Regions from separate parts of the Homo sapiens genome. Here regions 2 and 3 are each linked to region 1. The links come from fine-mapping of genetic effects on gene expression. A gene starts in region 1. Each other region holds a variant in brackets. All regions are shown on one strand. Distances are from middle to middle. Region 1 holds the start of CSGALNACT2 (chondroitin sulfate N-acetylgalactosaminyltransferase 2). Region 2 overlaps RASGEF1A (RasGEF domain family member 1A). Region 3 has its middle 22 kb from the start of RET.

Region 1 (6,305 bases):
CATCTAGCCTCTTGAGTAGCTAGGACTACAGGCACACACCACCATGCCTGGGTTTTTTTTTCCATAGAGATGGAGATCTCACTATGTTGCTCATGCTGGTCTAACTTGTAGGCTCAGGCAGTCCTCACTGATTCACCTTCCAAAATGATGGGATTACAGGTGTGAGCCATAGTGCCTGACCAAAGTATTCTTAATTATTTTATGCATAGTTGCTGATCTTGCCTGGGTTTGGGGAAATCCTTAATTATGGTTATTAATTTAGCTTGGGTCTAAGGTTTAAATTCCACAGTTGTCTGTATATGGGGCTCATGGAGGAATAGGCCTTCAGAGAGGCAGCTGGCATCCTGGGGTCATAGGAGGGTTGTTGTGAAAGGGCAGGGATCTGGACAAGAGGAAGAGAAGTGTGGACAGATGTGTGGAAGGGAAGAGATCAGAAGGATAAGGGGGAGAAGAGGGAGAGCTGTATTAGGGAAGCAAATGGATGATAAGCAGAAGGATTTACTAGGAAAATGAGTCTAGGTTGTTGCTGCTTAAGTTTGCCAAATCGCTCATCAGCTTTAGCCAGAGTCTTTCAGGGAAGCACTTTTTGAATCAGAATATCATTTGGAGACCTCTGACTACCAATCAAAAAAGGCTGCTCATTGGGCCTAAGAAATCTTATTCTCTTTCGTTTCTAAGGCATCTCTCAAATGAGCAATTTTGTTCAAGTTAGATGTTCTCCAAATAAGATCTTCACCAAATCAACCTTGGTGAAGTTAATGCTTTTCAGAGATGGGCGTAAGGATTAGAATTGTTAGAGAGTATATGTAAGAAGCAGGAGTTTTTTCTGGAGGAGGAGATTTAAACTTAGACAACACCATGAATGCTGGCTGGTGAGGCTGGCGAGAAATGGAATGTTTGTGTCTCTCAGGACATGAAAGCGAGACGGAAGGAGAACCTCATTCAGTTTTACTGGAAACCCACAGCAAAGTTTCTCCAAGTAGAGGCCGGTGTGATGAGAACTGCTAAATCATGAGCTGCGAGGCTGGCTCAAACAAGAGGCTTATGAGCCCCATGCCTGTGTCCTTTCCTACGGTTTTCCTTCTTATGACAAGCAGCACTTTTTGACAGCACAACACTAAACACTAACACAAAATACAGTGAAAAGGGATAAAAAGAATGGCCTGATTCCACTAGAGATGCCAGACAAATGAGAATCAATAACAAAACCAGAGTACCAAACTGAGAATAAATAGCCAGAGACCTCCACGCAGAGTGAGGTGAGCCCTAGTGCTGACCACATCGGCGCACCTGATAGGCCGAGAACATGGAGGCATGAGGGGCCTCTGGGTGGCACAATGGGTGGAAGCCTGGGGACCTCAGGGACAAGCAGTACAGACTTACCATGGGATCACCAGGAAAACTGTGGAAACCAGCAAAGGCTATTTATTCACAACTTGCTATAGCAGGGGAATCAGCCAGCATCACTTACTTTTGGTAGAAATTTAAAAGGCCCGAAAGAGATGGGAAACTTTTATTGTTTTGTTTTGTTTAAGTATCAGATTGGAAATTATTGGCAGGAAATGTTTTTAATTACATTTTTCTGATATTAAACCCAACACAGTTGTACTTTAATATTTTCCCTAGGAGAACTACTTATTTTACAACTATATCCCAGTGTATCACCCATGATCAGCCACATAATTTGAATCATGCATTATCTTCTCTCCACATTCAAATTACATACATTTAGTATTTGGCTACTTAAAAAAAAATCATTAAAAAGTAACAATTTAAATCCATTGATGGGAGAACCTCAGTTAGTTTCAAAACAACAATTCTTGCCAGGCGGGGTGACTCACGCCTGTAATGCCAGCACTTTGGGAGGCCGAAGCTGGAAGATCGCTTGAGCCCAGGAGTTCAAGGCCAGCCTAGGCAACAGAGGGAGGCCCCATCTCTACCAAAAAAAATATTAACAATTAGCCGGGCATGGTGGCATGCACCTGTGGTCCCAGCTACTCGGGAGGCTGAGGCGAGAGGATCGCTGGAGTCGGAGGTGGGGAGGCTGCAGTGAACCGTGATCGCTCCACTGCACTCCAGCCTGGGCGACAGAGCGGGACCCTGTCTCAAAAAATAGATGAATAAATAAATAAAAACAATTATAATGGAAGTTTGGATAGGAATTTAAAACATGTGGCAACTAACCCTGACCCTGCGGCTTCAGTCTCCCCGCCGCTAGCTGAGGGCCGTGGCCGCTGCACAGAGGCTTGTGAGGATTCGGGGGTTCAGGCAGCGCCCGCCGCGCATCTGCCAGACGTGCGGCCACAGGGTAGGAGCAGTAAGAAGGATCCAGGGAAAAAAGTCCACGAATGAGAAAGGAAACCCAGCGTTTGTAGGGCTAGGAGAACAAAGAAAGAAAATGCTGGCGGCGGAGGGCGAGGCTCTGCGGTGCGTGGCAGATGGGAATTTGCTCGGTGGCGGCTCCTCTTTCTGGAGAGCTTCCCAGCGTCCCCTCCCCCGCCAGCCCGCGGTGACGCGCCCGGCACCCACCACAGCCGGCTCTCGGCGCCGTCGCGCCTTCGCTCGCCCGCTTAGGCCGTGCTCGCGGTGGCGTGGGAGACAGAGAGCCCAGGGAGGACCCTGGAACATGCAGTGGTATGGAAGACGCCTAAGAAAGGGCTTCTCTTTCCACTCACGAAAATCAGTGTGTGAGCTCGAAGCCATTTCCCAGCGTGTCCGCCTCAACTCCCTCATTCAACAGATGAGGAATTCCTCCAGGGAAATGCAGTGATGCGCTCACGGCTGCCGGCGGCCCAGCGCCAAGGGGCGCTCCACAGCCCCGCGGCCCGAAGCCCTCGACTCGGCTGCCACGCAGGCCCCGCGGCCCCGCTCGGACTCCCAGGATCGGCTTCCGAGCGGGACAGCGCTGCAGTCCACGAGTCCGGGCAGGGGCGCCTCCAGGCCGGAGCGGTTTCCTGCCTCGGGCACTCTGCTGTCTCCACAAACGGTTTTTGGAGGCACACACACGGATACTTTAAACACGTCGGTGATGAATCGGTACCCAGCTGCCAGTGGCGGAGCTTCCTGGGCGGGGCCGCGGGCGCGCGGCGGCTTCATTTCCTCGCGCGCGCCGGAAGTGGCCTCTCAGGCGCGGCGGCGCGCCCGGGGGTGGGTGGCTGAGGCGGCGGCGGGCCCAAGGCGTGAGGCGCCGCCCGGGTGTCCCCGCGGCGCAGGAGGCGGTGGAGCGCAGAGCGGGCGAGCGCGGTGAGTACCTGGCCCGGCCTCGCCCGCCGGTCCGCGACTCCCGCCGGCTCCGGCCCGGGCGGTGCGGGCGCCGGGGCTGCGGGCTCCTGTGTGGTCGGGTGGGGTCGCCTAGCGGACCGGTCCTGCGGGGGGCCCTGTCTCTCAGGGATGAGCCTGCCGGAGTCGGCACCGGTTTTAGGGAAAGCGCGGCCAGAGACGATTGGTTCGCTTGTCAGTGTTGGGTTTTGTTTTGTTTCGTTTTGTTTTTACCTATTCATCACCATCTCTGCTCCTCTCAGTGGATAAACTTTTTAATCAGTGGTGACCTCGTCATCGCGTTAAAATAGTTCTGCCCTCAGCCCCTCTTTATCTGTAGATGGCAGAGCGAGCGCCGGTAAAGATGCTCTGTCGTGGAGGGCTCAGTGGGGCGGAGGAGATGGGGAGCCTCTGGCGTTGTCGGAGAATGCACCTTAAAAATGACTCTACCCTTGAGCAACGCAGGAAGCACGACAGTGATACTTCTGTTTGTGATGATGGTATTGGCGGTATGATAGTTTGATTATACATCTGAAGCTTCTCTTCCTGAGTCCTTGGCTTGTTAAACTTGGAGGTATTTTCTAGCGTGCTTTTGAGATAGATATGGGATGTCGTGACGTTTCACCGTCATTCAAGGCTCGCGGGAGCAGGGCCTTCATGTCTGGTAATTAATGTTGTTTTTTGAATGTTGTATTAAAATAGTAGCTTCGATCTTGGAAGTAAGAAGCCAAGTATTTTAGGACTGAGTGTTAGCGTTCATTTTGTATTATTGTTCTTGTACCATTTGTTTAAAGTTGTCATGTAACTAAAAGAATGAAAAAAGATGGATTTCCAGTATTTGTGGCTCAGAGGATTTTGGCCTAAATAAACACAGTTCCAACCAGTTTAGAAGCTGCATTTTTCTCTTTGTTTTTGTCGAGGCATAAAATACATATGAAATCAATAAGAGCACGAATCTTAATTGTACAGCTCAATGAATTTTTACATACTTATTACCCTGTGGAACCACCAGATATATCAAATTATAACCATAGAACATTTCCATCATCCTATTTTCCTGTGCTTCTTCCAAGTCAGTTATATCCTTGTTTTCCCATCTGTATTCTAACTTCTCTTATCTGCTTTTAGTTTTCTCTGTTTTGAGCTTCATGTTAATGGAATCACGTAGTATTCTCAGCATATTGTTTGTGGGACACACCCATGCTATTTCATGGTATTGTATTATTACTGTGTAATAGTCTATTGAATAATATGTGACTACTCTTCAGTTGATGGACATTTATGTTCCCAATTTTTGTATATGATGTGTTTTGGATATTAAGAATACTGTGGGCCTGGCGTGGTGGCTCAGGCCTTTTATCCCAGCGCTTGGGGAGGCCGAGGCAGGTGGATCACTTGGTCAGGAGTTCGAGACCAGCCTGGCAAACATGGTGAAACCGCATCTCTACTAAAAATACAAAAATTAGCCAGGCGTGGTGGCGGGCGCCTGTAAGCCCAGCTACTTGGGAGGCTGAGGCGGGAGGTGGAGGTTGCAGTGAGCCGAGATCGTGCCACTGCACTCCAGCCTGGACGACAGAGCCTGACTCGGTCTCAAAAAGAAAAGAAAAAAAAAAGAGTACTGTGGACATTCTTGTAAATTAAATGTCTTGGTGAGCATCTGTATGCATTTCTGTCAGCTATAGAATGACTGAGTCATGGCATAAGCAGAAAATTACCAACATGGAGTCATTACCAACCATACCATTACCAACCAAAGGCAGAAAATTTAACCAACATGGAGTCATCTTTTTTTTAATGTAATAGAATTTGTTATTTTAACTAATATAACATTCAAGGTTGGTTTTAAAAAAGCATAACTATTATGAGTTCAAGACGTAAGTGATTCATTCATTACCATGTTATTATTTACCCTTTGAATTGCACATTTATGACTGTCTTCTGTCGGACTGTCATTGTTTGTTTAACTGTTAGACAAGTCTGTTAGAGCTGGTGAGGATCTGACTCTGAAGTTTAGCATAACATTTACTTAAGAACTGTATTACTCAAGTTAGTGGTTTTTTAGAGGAAATGAAATACCAAAAGGATATGACTGAAAGTGGATTGAAGAATCACGGGACTGCAAGTCAAAGAACTTACATTGTTATTGTCATGCTACACAAGCACTAGGTATAAGTGTAAAATTGAATTATAGGGCTAGTTACAAATGTGAATTCACAGCAGGAGTACAGTGATTTTCATATGGACTGAGATACTACTAGCACATTTATAATGTGAACACACAACAAAAATCACTAAACATTTGTGGGAAATCGGTAGCATCTAAGAGAAGCTTCAGACCAAACAAATACAGAACTAGGCACTGAAGCAGTGGAGCTAATGTAAGACAAAAGAAAGCTTTAAAGTAAGTATTAGTATCTTCAAATTTGTTAAGGTATTATGCCTACTGAACACATACAGGCTGCCATGAAAAAAAGCAATTGATTCTTGAATATTTAAACATGGAAAGTAGGAAAGGGCCAGGTGTGGTGGCTCATGCCTGTAATTCCAACACTTTGGAAGGCCGAGGCAGGAGGATCTCTGGATTCCAGGAGTTTGAGAGCAGCCTAGGCAACATAATGAGACCCTGTCTCTACAAATAATTTTTTTTTTTTTTGAGACGGAGTCTGGCTCTGTTGCCCAGGCTGGAGTGCAGTGGCGCCATCTCGGCTTACTGCGAGCTCCACCTCCCAGGTTCACGCCATTCTCCTGCCTCAGCCTCCCGAGTAGCTGGGACTACAGGCGCCCGCCACCATGCCCGGCTAATTTTTGTATTTTTAGTAGAGACGGGTTTCACCATGTTAGCCAGGATAGTCTTGATCTCCTGACCTCATGATCCACCTGCCTCAGCCTCCCAAAGTGTTGGGATTACAGGCGTGAGCCACCGCACCTGGCCACAAATCATTTTTAAAATTAGCAGTATGGTAGTGCACACCTGTCGTCCCAGCTGTTCAGGCAGTGGAGGCTGCCACTGCACTTCAGCCTGGCTGACAGTGAAACTGTCTCAAAAA
Region 2 (6,305 bases), 120 kb after region 1:
AGGCAGGAAGGGGGATGGCCAGCTCAGGAGCTGGACGGAGGGGCAGGGCGGGGACGGCAGGAAGGCTCGGAGAGATGAAGGGAGGCACCAGAGAACCACACCACCTGCTAACATGCTCCCTAGAGCACGGGAGCGACCTGGCCTCAACCTCTGCCTCTGCCCCTCTCTGCAGACCCCAGAGGCTCACTGGCAAAATCAGTGTAATGATGCTGGCATCAAAAAGAGGCACATTAAGTCACATGTCAGTGAAACGCCCAGCAGAGCCCTTGGACAGTAGGCTGGTCAGGGGCCCTCCCAGCATCTGGGTATAAATGCACACACCCAGAATGAATGTGTACACCCAGAGCCCCCAGGCACATGACTGTACACCACACCCAGGCCTGGGCACCGGCAGGGTGGACCGAGGGCACCAGCCTCCCCACACCTGCTGCTCCTTCCTCTCCACTCTGCAACCTGGGCCCTGCCTGGCACTGGTGCTGTCCTGGAGATCCCCTCCTGTGTCTTCCCCTGACAGCGTCCCCGGTTGCCTCACATAAGACAGCTCTGCACTCGGTGCACCACCGGATGCATCTGGCGTCCTGCCCAGGGCTGAGAACACTGTGCTGCCCTGGAGTCCAACCCTGGGTGCTATGGCAGGCCAGAGAGCCACTGTGGAACCCTGGTCCCCACGGGCAGGGCCAAGTGGCTCCCCAGACCCAGACCCCACGGAGAAGCTAGGGTCCGCCCCCCTCTCAGGACCCCAGCAGGCAGACTCCCGTGCCCATAGGAGGCCTGGCCACTGTCCCGCCCCCTCCCACCTTTCCCACTGCGGGAGCCAAGGAAGGCACCTGGGTGTGGACTTCTCCTGTACAACTGGGCTCTCCAGACGTCAGCAGGCAGCAGGGCATGTAGCCCTCGACGGCCGTGATCCACAGCGCTCAGCATTCTATTTTTATCATTTAACCCCAAACTTTCTATTCCATTGTTTCTTTGACCCATCATTCAAACATGTGTTTCAAATTTTCTAAATATACAACTCTTTTAGAGTTATCTATTTTGTTATCACTTTCTCTCTTAATTGCACTGTAGTCGGAACACTTGGCCCGAATAGCAGCTTCTTTGACATTTGTGCGGGCATCTCCGAGCCAGCACTGACTGCTCAGCCTGTGCGCACCCACCAGGCTTGGTGGGTGCCTGGTGACCGCAGCTGTGGGTCTCCCCTCCAGGCCCCACCCATGTGGGAGCGCCCTCCCCCTCGGCCCCGCCCCCTCTGGGAAGTGGTTCTGGCTGCCGTGGCCTTTCCATGAAGAACAGCTGGGACCCCTGGCCATACTTGCCAGCACAGTTTACTATCAGCCCTCTCCACCACCACCACTCCCCGCAGGGCAGTTGATCTGGCCCAGGTACCTGCAGGTCACCTCACAGCAGGTCTAACTCACTCCAGCTTGGTCAAGGTAAGCCCAGCTCCCAGAAACACCTAGGCCAGAGGAGGAAGGGGCACGGGGCATAGAAGGCCCTGTCCCCGTAGCGGGGCTGAGCAGGAAGGGCCCTGCCTGCAATGGACAGTGTGGGCAGGACTTGGGCTCTCCCAGGTGCCACCAATGCTCACCTGGCCTGGCCTCGCCAGTGGGGGACTCCACTCCTCATCCAGCCACCCACTGCTAACAGCAATAATAAAATGAATAATTGATGCAGCCCCCTGCCTGCTCTGAGTAATTAACTCATGAAAGCATCAGGGCACCCCCAGAACTCCCAACCTCATCCAAGCCCCATCCTCCCAGCTGGTCCACTCACCCTGCCTCCAGCCCACCCTTCCTCCCCCAGCTCTGAGGGCAGAGGCTTGGGTCCTAGCAACTGGGGCCAACCCTCCTCTCCTCAGCCAGCAAAGCCGGGGCTGCCCAGCTCTCACCCAGAGCCTGGCTCGGGGCTGCACATTACCTTCATCCAGACCACAGCCCTGGGAGAAGCAGGGCTCACAGGGCATGCTCAGAGCACCGGCCAGAAAAAGCTGGGCACAGAACTAGCCTACAGAGAAGTCCAGGCAGGAGAAATCTGGACCTTGGAGTCTGCGTCTGTACAGGGACAAAGTGCAGATCCTCATCCTGGGAAGTACCTGGTGCTGTGGCTGGGCATGTCTCCCCAGGCCCCAAGGAGGAGGCCTGCCCCAGTGCCCCAGCTGTGGCTGGGGTCCAGGACACACCCGGATGCACTCAAGGCTGCCTGACATTCACATTTGGCGGGTCTGGGTACCAGAGACCTGGAGAGCCCCATGGGCAGAGAGAGTGGGGGAGGGTCCACCAGATTTGGGCAGCCTTGGTGGGGGTGGGGAAACAAGCCCTGCTGATAAACCATCAGAACGCGCCCCCTCTCCTCTCCCAGCTCCCGCCAGCCTCCTCCACGGAAGCTACTCTTTGTTAACAGCGTTGCCATGGCAACCAGATCCAGGGAGAACTCTCTCTTCAAGGTAGAGTCTGAGGGTGACACTTGGAGAAACAGAAGTGGTGGTGACAACAAACAGGGTGCTGGCCTCCCAGCCCCACCCCCCAGGATTCCTTCCTGGTCCAGGACCCCAGACACCAGCCCCCCAGACTGTCCCAGAGCTCTCAGGTCTGCTTCCCTCTCCTCTCCTCTCCCTGGCGTGGGTGCAGCAACGTGGCCCAGGCCAGGCACCTCTGCCACACCATGCACGGTGGCTCAGGCACTTCCATGCACCTCCCACGGATGTTCGCTGAATCTGCCAGCATAGCCACTGTCTCGTGGCTGGGCTCCAACAGGCCTGGTGCAGACTAGACCCCAGGGGATCATAGACAAGTACACCCAAGGCGGCTGCTGCAGAGCAGCCCCGGGCCCCCTGCACAGCAGGAAAGTTCAGGAAGGCACCCAAGGAAGGCTGGGAGCCTCCTGGCAGGAGGGAGACCCAGCAGAAGCCATGCCCTGAGTAGGGGAACAGACTGCTGGGTAAGGAGGCCACTGCAAATGTCCTGGCCAGGGGATGGTGGCCCGGCCCACAGAGGTGGCAGTGAGCAGGGAGAGGCAGAAGGGGCAGAAGAGAGGTCTAGAGTGGGGTGTGCTAGACTGGCTGACAACTCCAGGCAAAGGGAAGCTGGCAGAGGGGGTGAGGGAGAGCCAGCTGCCTACCTGCTCAGATGGGGAACCTGGGGCAGGCAAGGTTCAGGGGCGTGATGATGTGCATCGTCACCCGGGAGGCGTCCAGCAGGCTCACACACTGACAGAACCCAGAGGACAGGTGGGGGCTGATGAGAGCTGGAACCGGATCAGCACGGAGGAGGGAACAGATGCTGTGGCTGGGTAGAGGGTTTGAGCCCAGGTCTTGAGGAACAGGGACTTTGAGTGTCCCAGGATGGGAGGAGGAGAACCAGGGGCCGGCCAAGCCCAGGAAATGGGTGTCTGGGAACAAGGCAGTGGACATCCACGGCCTCTCAAGAAGACATCCCTGGACTGAAGGAGGTGTGTGCAGATTGG[C/T]GTGGGTGGGAGTGAGTGGGAAGTGAGGATTCAGAGTGAGCAGAGAACATGTCTTCAAAGTCAGCCCGCACAGGCGACCAGGGTGCGGACGGCTGAGCAAGTTTCGTTGTTTTTAAAAAAGGAAAAGCACCTGTCAACCGGACAGCCACATCTTTGCATCCCACGTATGAAGTGCCCACCCTGGGCTGTTCTGTCTAGAGTCCCAGCCCAGGCCTCTCTTCTTCAAGCTGGTGCTGGCCTCTGCTCCCTGAATTCACAAAGAACCCCACAGCCAGCTCACAAGAGACAAGCAGGTCTCGGAGCCCCTGCTGGCTGCCCTGGGCAGCACAGGCCGGCAGCTCAGCCCCTACCCCAGCCCGGGCAGTGCCCAGGGCAGGGCGGGCAACCACAGGTGGGGAGAAGCTTCCCAGAACAGGATCACTGGGTGTCGTCCTGAGTTGTGCCCAAAGGCACCCATGTGCTTCCTGGGAGGTGCTGCAGCAGAGCCGGGACAACCGGACTACTCTCCCTGCCTGGCTTCCCTCTCCATGGTCCACCGGGCAGGGGTGGCCACAGCAGCAGTCACACCCCCACCCCGTCCATCACAGCACAGGCCCCGCTTGAGTCCTCACACCTGTCCACTCCTGGCCGGTCACCCCTCACAGCCCTCTGTCATGGTGCCTGGAGCAGCCTCTACCAGCCTGTCCCAGGTGGTGAGCCCTGAGGCCAGAGCCCCTCTCCCACTCTGAGCAGGCCAGGACCCCGAGGGGCTTTCGGGCTTCCCTTCACACAGTGCCCGCCAAGCCACTGCTGGCCATACCAGCTGACCTTCCCAAACCCTGCTCCCGGGCTGCTAGCTGGGGAATTCCTGGTGTCCCAGCGCGCAGGGACATTCTGCATGGGTTCCTGGCAGCTCGCCACTCTGGGCCGGCCCAGAGCCCACTCTCACATACCCACAGCCCCAGGCTCTGTGCCCAAAAAGTGGCGACAGGGATACACCCAAAAAGTGGGCAGTGAGCCCTCTCTGGACCCCCGCAGGTCAGGCTGACAGCCATAGGGGAGGGCCTCTGACACCCCCAGCAATCCACCAGTGGGTATCAGAGGCCCTCCTCTATGGCTGTCAGCCCACCAGTGCCACTTCAGTCCCCTCCCTCCGCACATCACACCCTTGCTAGGTAAACACTCATCCTCCCCAGCAGGGAGTGGGCAGGGGAGGGCAGAGGAGCCGGGAGGCAGGCTGGAGTGGGTGGGAGTTACAGGAGGCAGATTGGAAGCTCCAACAGAAAAGCAGCCAGAGTGCCGGACCCAAGCAGATGGCCTCAGGAGAAAAAGGGGGAAGGGGAGGGAGGGTCCGTCAAGGGGCAGCAGGGAGGGGTGGGGGAGAATGCCTTGAGTCTCCTCCCCATCTGCTATCTGCTATGCCCCTGGCACCTACCCCCAGCAGCCCAGCGCCCCTCCCCTGGGGTGGGCCATGCAGAGAAGAGCATCCCTCCACCAGCCCCTCTCCTGAGGACAGTGGGGGGGCCAAACCCCCTGCCCCCATCCCTGCCTTGGCACAGCACCTTCACTTGACCTATTTGACAAATAGGGCTTCTGTGAAACCCACGGTTCTATTGCCAAAAACCAAAGGCCAACCAAAGCTGTCCCATCCTGCCCCTGGCATCATTCTACAGGTGGGGACCGGCGTGCTCAGGGGCTCCTGGCCACACTGTGTCCCAGTGCCCACTCGCTCTCCTCCCTGGCTGGCCCCTCCCACCGCTGGGGGCCACTGTGTGCGTGGCTCTCCCCACCGCAGCCACTGTCCAGCACAAATGCCATTTCTCCCTCCTCCTCCTCCTCCCCTGCCTGCAGTTGCTAAGTTACACCAAAAAACCCCTCTGCTCTGTGTGAACTGTTCCATTTCCACGATTTGCCAGGTGGAAGGGAGCCATCCGGCTGGCAGCTCGAAGATGCCTCCCAGAGAAAAACAAACTCACTGGCTGGCCTTCAGGCCAAGGCACACCTGGGATACCTGCTTGGTTCACAAACCCAGGGGCATGTGCAGGAGGACACAGCTTCTCTACTTCACTAGAGAGCCTGGGGGATCCACACAGCTCATGCCCTTCTCAGGAGCAGGGAGTGTGGGCCTGCTGCACCCGCCTCGCTGGGTCACTACCACCCACAGCCCTAAGGACACACACTGGCTGGAGGGGCAGAGAACCCACCCACGTGTCCCTGGCCATCCAGCCAAGGTCCTCCATGTCCCCCTGCTCCGGATCTCCCCTTCCTGGGCTGGGGTCCTGAGGTTCCAAAGCAAAGTGTCACTGGACATCAGGGTGGAAATGTCCTCAGAGGTCATCAAAACCGTGTCAGTCTACAGATGGGGAAACTGAGTCTCAGAAGCCTGCAGCCTGCCCGTGGTTCACGAATCAAGACCTGTAGCCTTTCGGCTGGAGGCCCCCTAGAGCCGCTTAGAGTCCAGGGCACCGAGGTGGACAGGCTGGGCTGGCAAGACTGCATCCGGAGGGGGCGGGAGAACCCTGGGGGGACAGAGGGAACCAAGGCCTCTGGGAGGCTCCCCTGCACCCAGCCTGACTCCTGTGTTTCAGGATCCTGCGGCCGACGGCCATCGGGGCCCTTCCTGCGCAGGACAGTGGGAGAAGAGTGGCAGTGGTGGGGAGGGTGAACCAGGGAGAAGCTCACTGCTCTGAGCAGGGAGGGAGGGAGCCCCGGCCACCACCAGGTCTCTGCCCCCAGGTGGCTCCCAAGAGGCAGGCAGCGGCCTCTCTGTAAATATCCACCAGGTCCAGCACCCAGAGGCAGCCAGAAATGCAGGGCACAGGAACCTGCCAGCGCGTCCCTCCACACACAGCAGGGGACTCCCG
Region 3 (5,665 bases), 83 kb before region 1:
TACCTCATCTCCCCAGATTCACCACTGTTCACATTTTTCTTCCTGTGTTCTCTTTTTTTTCCCTGTCCCTCCCCCACTCTCTCCACATGTATATGCAATTTCTCTCTTGAACCATTTGGCGATGTTACTTCTATTCACCATGCCTCCTTGCTCCCAAATATTAAATCTTTATCTTCCGTAGACAAGGACATGTTCCTACTTAGCCATGGTACATCTGTCAAGTACTGAATAGGAAAGTTAGCATTGATACAATACTGTTATCTAACCAAAATTCATATTCCAGTTTTGTCAGCTGTCCCAATGTTGTCTTTGACAATAATTTTTTTCCATCCAGGATCACGCTTTGCATCCAATCATCCTGTCCCAGTGGTCTCTTTAAACTGGGACACCCTCCACCTTCCTCTCCTCTAGCATTCACATTTTGGAAGGGAGATTTCCACTTAGGCTGTAGACTGTGCCTCCATTTGGGTTTTTCCACTGTCTCCTCAGGATTAGATTCAGGTCACGCATTTTTGGCAGGAATGCTGCAGACCTACTTCCATGCCCTCCTTGACGCACCACACCAGGATGAATGTGGAAGTTTATTCCATCACTGATGATGATATCAACTTTCACTATTTGGTGAAGTCAGTATTCACTGGGCTTCTCAATTAAAAGGTTATTATTTTTCCTTTTGTAACAAACCAGGACTTTTATGGGCAGATACTTTGAGTCTATGTGATTCCGTGTTCCTGCACAAACTTTCACCCTCAAATTTAGCATCTGCTGATGGTTGTTGTCTGAATCAGTTATTCTAATTGTCAAATGATTATCTTTCTAAATTCCACCTACTTTTACTAGCTGATGCTTTATTATACTATAAGGACAAGCTTTTCCTTATCTTTTTATTTCATATCGTTATTGGATGATGAGCTCATGGAGTCTTATTTTATTCAGGGGCCATAATTCATTCCTATCATTCATTCTGATGCCCAGAATGTCCCAGCTGGGCCAATGGGAGCCCCTTTGCTTGGTTCCTGTGCCCTGTAATATGCTTTCCTTGTTCTCTGAGTCCTTCCTTACTTTCAGTGAGATGTTCTAACCTCATTTTTTTTCTGCTCCAGCCCTGGAAACTTTTCTCCAGGGAGCCCTGGTTCCTTTTAGTGGAGACAGAATTTAGAAACCAAGATGTGAGTGCTGGGTGTGCTCATCGTTACTCTAGAATTCCTGAAGGCCTGGGGATGGAGCGCTCTCATTCTCACTTCGGGGAGAGAGCTGATGCAACAGTTTAAGGGGCATTTGGCCATCCTTGTCAAACGTGGCCATGTGCCCATCTGCACACAGACACACCATTTGCAGGAATCTGTTCGACAAAGAGGAGCACACAAGTGCATAACAACAACCCGTGGAAGCAACCAGAGTGTCCATCAAGGTCAGCTAAAAAAAAAAAAAAAACACTGAGCTCCCTCCCTTTCTAAACGACACTCAGCGTACATTGAAAATAATAAGACTGATTTGTTCAAGTTCAAGAATTACTAAAGGAGAAGAAGCAACTAATAGAGTGGCACATGTAATCTGATTTTTAAATACATTTAAAATAAAATGTGTGTGTGTGTGCGCGCGCATGTATCTTATATACATGAGTGTGTTTGTATAGGAAATACTCTGGAAGGACGAAGTCCAAGCTCCCAAGTAATGTTATCGCTCAGAGAGGGTAGTGAGCAGAGGTATGGAGGCTGGTAATACAAGCAGAAAATTATAGTTTTTATTTCATAAACTTCTGAACTATTTGAAGACTTTATAGCAGCCATATAGTTCCTCTATCTGTAATATTTTTTAAAAGTGTTAAAAGACAATAGGCCAAAAACGACAGCCGGCTCTCTAGCCTACAAAACTGGCCAGCACTGTTGAAATATACTAAAGTAGTTTTAAAAATAAAGAGAAAGGTACTCACCAGAAGTGGGATCAATCGGCCTTGGAAGCAGAGGAAGAAGAGAAGGAAGAGGAAACCTTGGCAGTGTTTATTGTACCTGCCCTGGAGCAGAGGTGGGGCCCTGGCCCATCTTGGTTCTCTGTGAAGTGGCCCTGCAGGCTCTTGGGGACATCCCCAGGCTCTTGGGAACATCCAGCTCCCCAGCTCTGATCCTACCCACCACTGGCTTCCCCTGAGTGGTCCACAGGGGGAGAGGATGTAGTGGCACCAGCCATAGGACCAGAGGTCCCTGACCTGGGCTGTACTGCTCTTCCTCAACTTCTGATCATATAGATGGATCCGCACGTGGTCAGGAGGATGGATTCTGGAGTCAGACTTTCTGAATTCACACCCTGGCTCACCGCTCACTGACTTGGAACTTGGAACATGGCAATTTCCCCCCTACCCAACCTCTCTGTGCCTCTCTGTGCCTCAGTTTCAACATCTGTAAAATGTCCCCATACAGTTGTTGGAAAGGTCAAATTAGTAAATATGCCAAGTGCCTAGGACAGTAGCTAGGATGTAGTAGACTCTCCAAAACGATTGTTTGTGATATTATTCCTAGAAGTCACAGTGGGCACACCCTTCTCTTTTTTCAGAATGTAACAGGAATGAGGCCAGGGTTTTACTCTTAGGTGTGATATTCCTGATCGTTTGCCATAGTGGTGTGTATTCGCTAGGAATGCTTTCAACTGCAACAGTTCCAAACATAGCAGCTTAAACAAATAATGTTTTGTTTTGCCTCCATTTACAAGAGGCCTGCCAGTAGGCAGCTGCTGGCCTGGGTTCAGCAGTTCAACCCCGTCAGAGCTTTGTCTATCTTTCATGCATTCTGCCTCAGGGTTGCAATATGGTTGCCCCAGTGCCTGGCATCACATCTATCTTCAATGTAGGAAGAAAGGAAATGGAAAGAAAAGAGCTGCATTTGGCTCTTTTGACAAGAAAACAAACCTTCTCAAAATATCCCAGCTGACTGCCACTTAGGTCTCATTTACCAGAACTGTGTCATTTGACCACACTTAGTTCAAGAGAGGCTGGGAATATATTTAGACTTTTAGCCTCAATAGTGCAGATCTCAAGGGAAAGGCGGTTGGAAACAGCCTCATGGAGCTTGC[C/T]ACTATTTTCTTTATCCCATTAAGAAGATCCGTATGGCCCATGTTTGAGTGACATGTGTTTGAGTGAGGAATGGTTGGTGGCATACACCAAATGTTTTCTCAGCAGAGGGACCATCCCAGTGTCTCTATCCCGCTCCTACTCTAGGGGTCCAATTAAATGGAGTCCCACCTATTATGAAGCAGCAGCAGGGGAAATTCATCTGTGGGGGCAGCTGGGAGCTCCAGGACTTAGCAAACCTGACAGCCTGTGCAGACCAGGATGCAGGGCTTCCAACCCCAGCCACCTCCCTGCCGAAATGGCCACCACTGCCAGCTCCAGGTTGCTGGAGGAAGCTGGAGGCTGCCAGTTTGCTAGCTCCAGGCTTTGACAGCAAGGGCATCTCTGGTCAGTGCCTCCTGGATTGTTCAACCTGTTTCCATCTTCCAGGCTCTCAGGAGCACTGGGCAGTGCAGTGGGGTGGGGGCTTGGGAGCTCCCATGTGTGACAGACACAGCTCCCAGCTTCCCTTCACATCCGCAATGCAGGCCTGGCTGATGGTATCTAGTTCCTGAGACCCTGCAGTGAACTCAGATCCCAGATACTTTCCCTTGATAACAGCTTCACCTTTTTCATCTCTTTTAACAAATACCAACTCCTGGCTGAAACCCAGACTCCTGGCTGGATACCAAGTCCTGGCTGAAAACCCCTTGCTGCTTCCCAGAAACAGCCTGGTCTGACATGGTCAGTGGAGAAGAGAGTGGGCCTGGTGCCCACAGCCACTTACTGCCTTCTCTGGGCCCCAGTTCCTCCTGGTGAAATCGAGAGGGTGGGTAGGATGCTTCCTGGCTGCCCCCTCTGTGCACAACTGGTGGCTGTGGGTCCTGGTTGCCCCTCTGTGCACACTCTGTGGTTGTGAGTCCTGGCTGCCCCCTCTGTGCAAGCCCAGTGGGTGTGGGTTCTAGTCACCCCCTCTGTGCACACCCGGTAGCTGTGGGTCCTGGTTGCCCTCTCCGTGCACACCCCCTGATGTGGGTCCTCATTGCCCCTCTGTGCACACCTGGTGACTGTGGGTCCTGGTTCCCCACTCCGTGCACACCTGATGGCCATGGGTCCTGGTTGCCCCACTCTGTGCACACTCAGTGGTCACGTGTCCTGGTTGCCCCATTCTGTGCACACTCAGTGGTCATGGGTCCTGGTTGCCCCACTCTGTGCACACCCAGTGGCTGTGGGTCCTGGTTGCCCCACTCTGAGCACACCCAGTGGCTGTGGGTCCTGGTTGCCATCTCTGTGTACAACCTGTGATTGTGGGTCCTGGTTGCCATCTCTGTGTACAACCTGTGATTGTGGGTCCTGGTTGCCCCTCTGTGCACACCCATCTTGCTCCTCATCTGGATGAAGTCACTGCCCATGGTGGCCTCATGCAGCCTGTGATGCTGGGCTCTCACTTGCTCCACTTTCCAGATGAGGAAACTGAGGCTCAGAAAAGCTGTCCCTTGCCTGGATCTGAGCCTGGTCTTGCAGCCCAGAGCTCTTGCCACCTGGCTGCACCCCTGGCAGTGACCAAAATTGTTGGTCCCGACCCAGACCTCAGAGGGTCAGTGAAGAGTGTCCTGGGTTGGCTTCTCCTCCCCTCTGCAAATCCTCTCAGCCCACACTCTTTCAGCTTCTCACAGACCACATGAAATAATGTGATAGATGCAATATGAGATTAGGAGCTGAACCTCACCCAGGTCAGGAAATTCCAAGCGCAGTCTCCCAGCTCAGCTCTGGCTCCCGTATGCTGCCCCCAGGTCGCAGCGGGGTGTGCAGGGGACCATTGCAGGCTGCAGGGGCACCTGCATCCTCTAGAACTTCCTGAAGACCAGACGCTCTGATTTTCCAACCAGCACCAGCCCAGTCATTTCCCTCTGCCTCCCTGGGGACTGTCCCAGCCGCCATCCCTTGCTCCTGCCTCCCTGGGGACTATCCAAGCCACCATCCCTTGCTCCTGCCTCATGCGGGTTTCCTCTCTAGCCAGATCCTCCCCGTCTGTATCCAAAAATACTGTTACTTCCCTGTCCTTAAGACAGTGTGTTTGACTGCTTTGCTTGTTTGTTTGCTCCTCTTGATGGTAAAACTGCTCCAGAGATGTGGCCCCATCTGGGGTTGCCCCACTGAAGCCCTCCACAGAGACTTTGTGACACCTGACCACTAACCTCACCTCGCTAAACTGAGGCAGAGCTTGGCAACAGTGGTGACTCAGTGGCTCAGCCCTCCTCTTGAAACACCATCCTCCCGAGTTCCAGGACCCCTCTGCCAGGCCCCTCCCTCCTTCTCCATCCCCCACACCTCCCCCCATCTTCCCGTGGGGGGACCCAGTGCTCGTCTCTATTCACACTCTACAGACTCCGCGTGACACCAGGCCCCACCTCTGCACCCTCCACCTCAAGGATGGATACACCTTCCGGGCTGTACCCGTGAACCCCAGCCTCCAGGTCTACCCAAAACCTGCTCACCATCACCTTCTCAGGTACAAAAACAGCCCTCTTCCCTCACACCCCCACCGCCCAACCTGTGGTCTACCTTGGAAATAAACCTCACACCTCTGGTCATCTCTACTGCCACCCCACTCCCCACCCA

Evidence for each region.
Region 2: its variant is fine-mapped to the expression of CSGALNACT2 in skeletal muscle (GTEx, PIP 0.91).
Region 3: its variant is fine-mapped to the expression of CSGALNACT2 in whole blood (TOPMed, PIP above 0.99).

The regions. Positions count from the first base shown.
Region 1 is chr10:43,135,325-43,141,629 of GRCh38, forward strand. It overlaps CSGALNACT2 (chondroitin sulfate N-acetylgalactosaminyltransferase 2), which reads left to right and starts at 3,121. Exons shown (of 8, transcript NM_018590.5): 1 at 3,121-3,243. It overlaps CSGALNACT2-DT (CSGALNACT2 divergent transcript), which reads right to left and starts at 3,069. Exons shown (of 1, transcript NR_186456.1): 1 at 1,500-3,069. RefSeq lists silencers at 2,418-2,617, 2,748-2,807, 2,978-3,477, 3,588-3,657.
Region 2 is chr10:43,259,872-43,266,176 of GRCh38, forward strand. The region is part of intron 1 of RASGEF1A (RasGEF domain family member 1A); the gene reads right to left. Among named protein-coding and RNA genes, the nearest start is that of RASGEF1A, 4.0 kb to the right of the region's middle. RefSeq lists enhancers at 1-279, 5,824-6,305. The variant C/T (reference allele first, on the strand shown) is at 3,463.
Region 3 is chr10:43,052,712-43,058,376 of GRCh38, forward strand. No RefSeq gene overlaps it. Among named protein-coding and RNA genes, the nearest start is that of RET, 22 kb to the right of the region's middle. RefSeq lists an enhancer at 3,731-5,665. The variant C/T (reference allele first, on the strand shown) is at 3,067.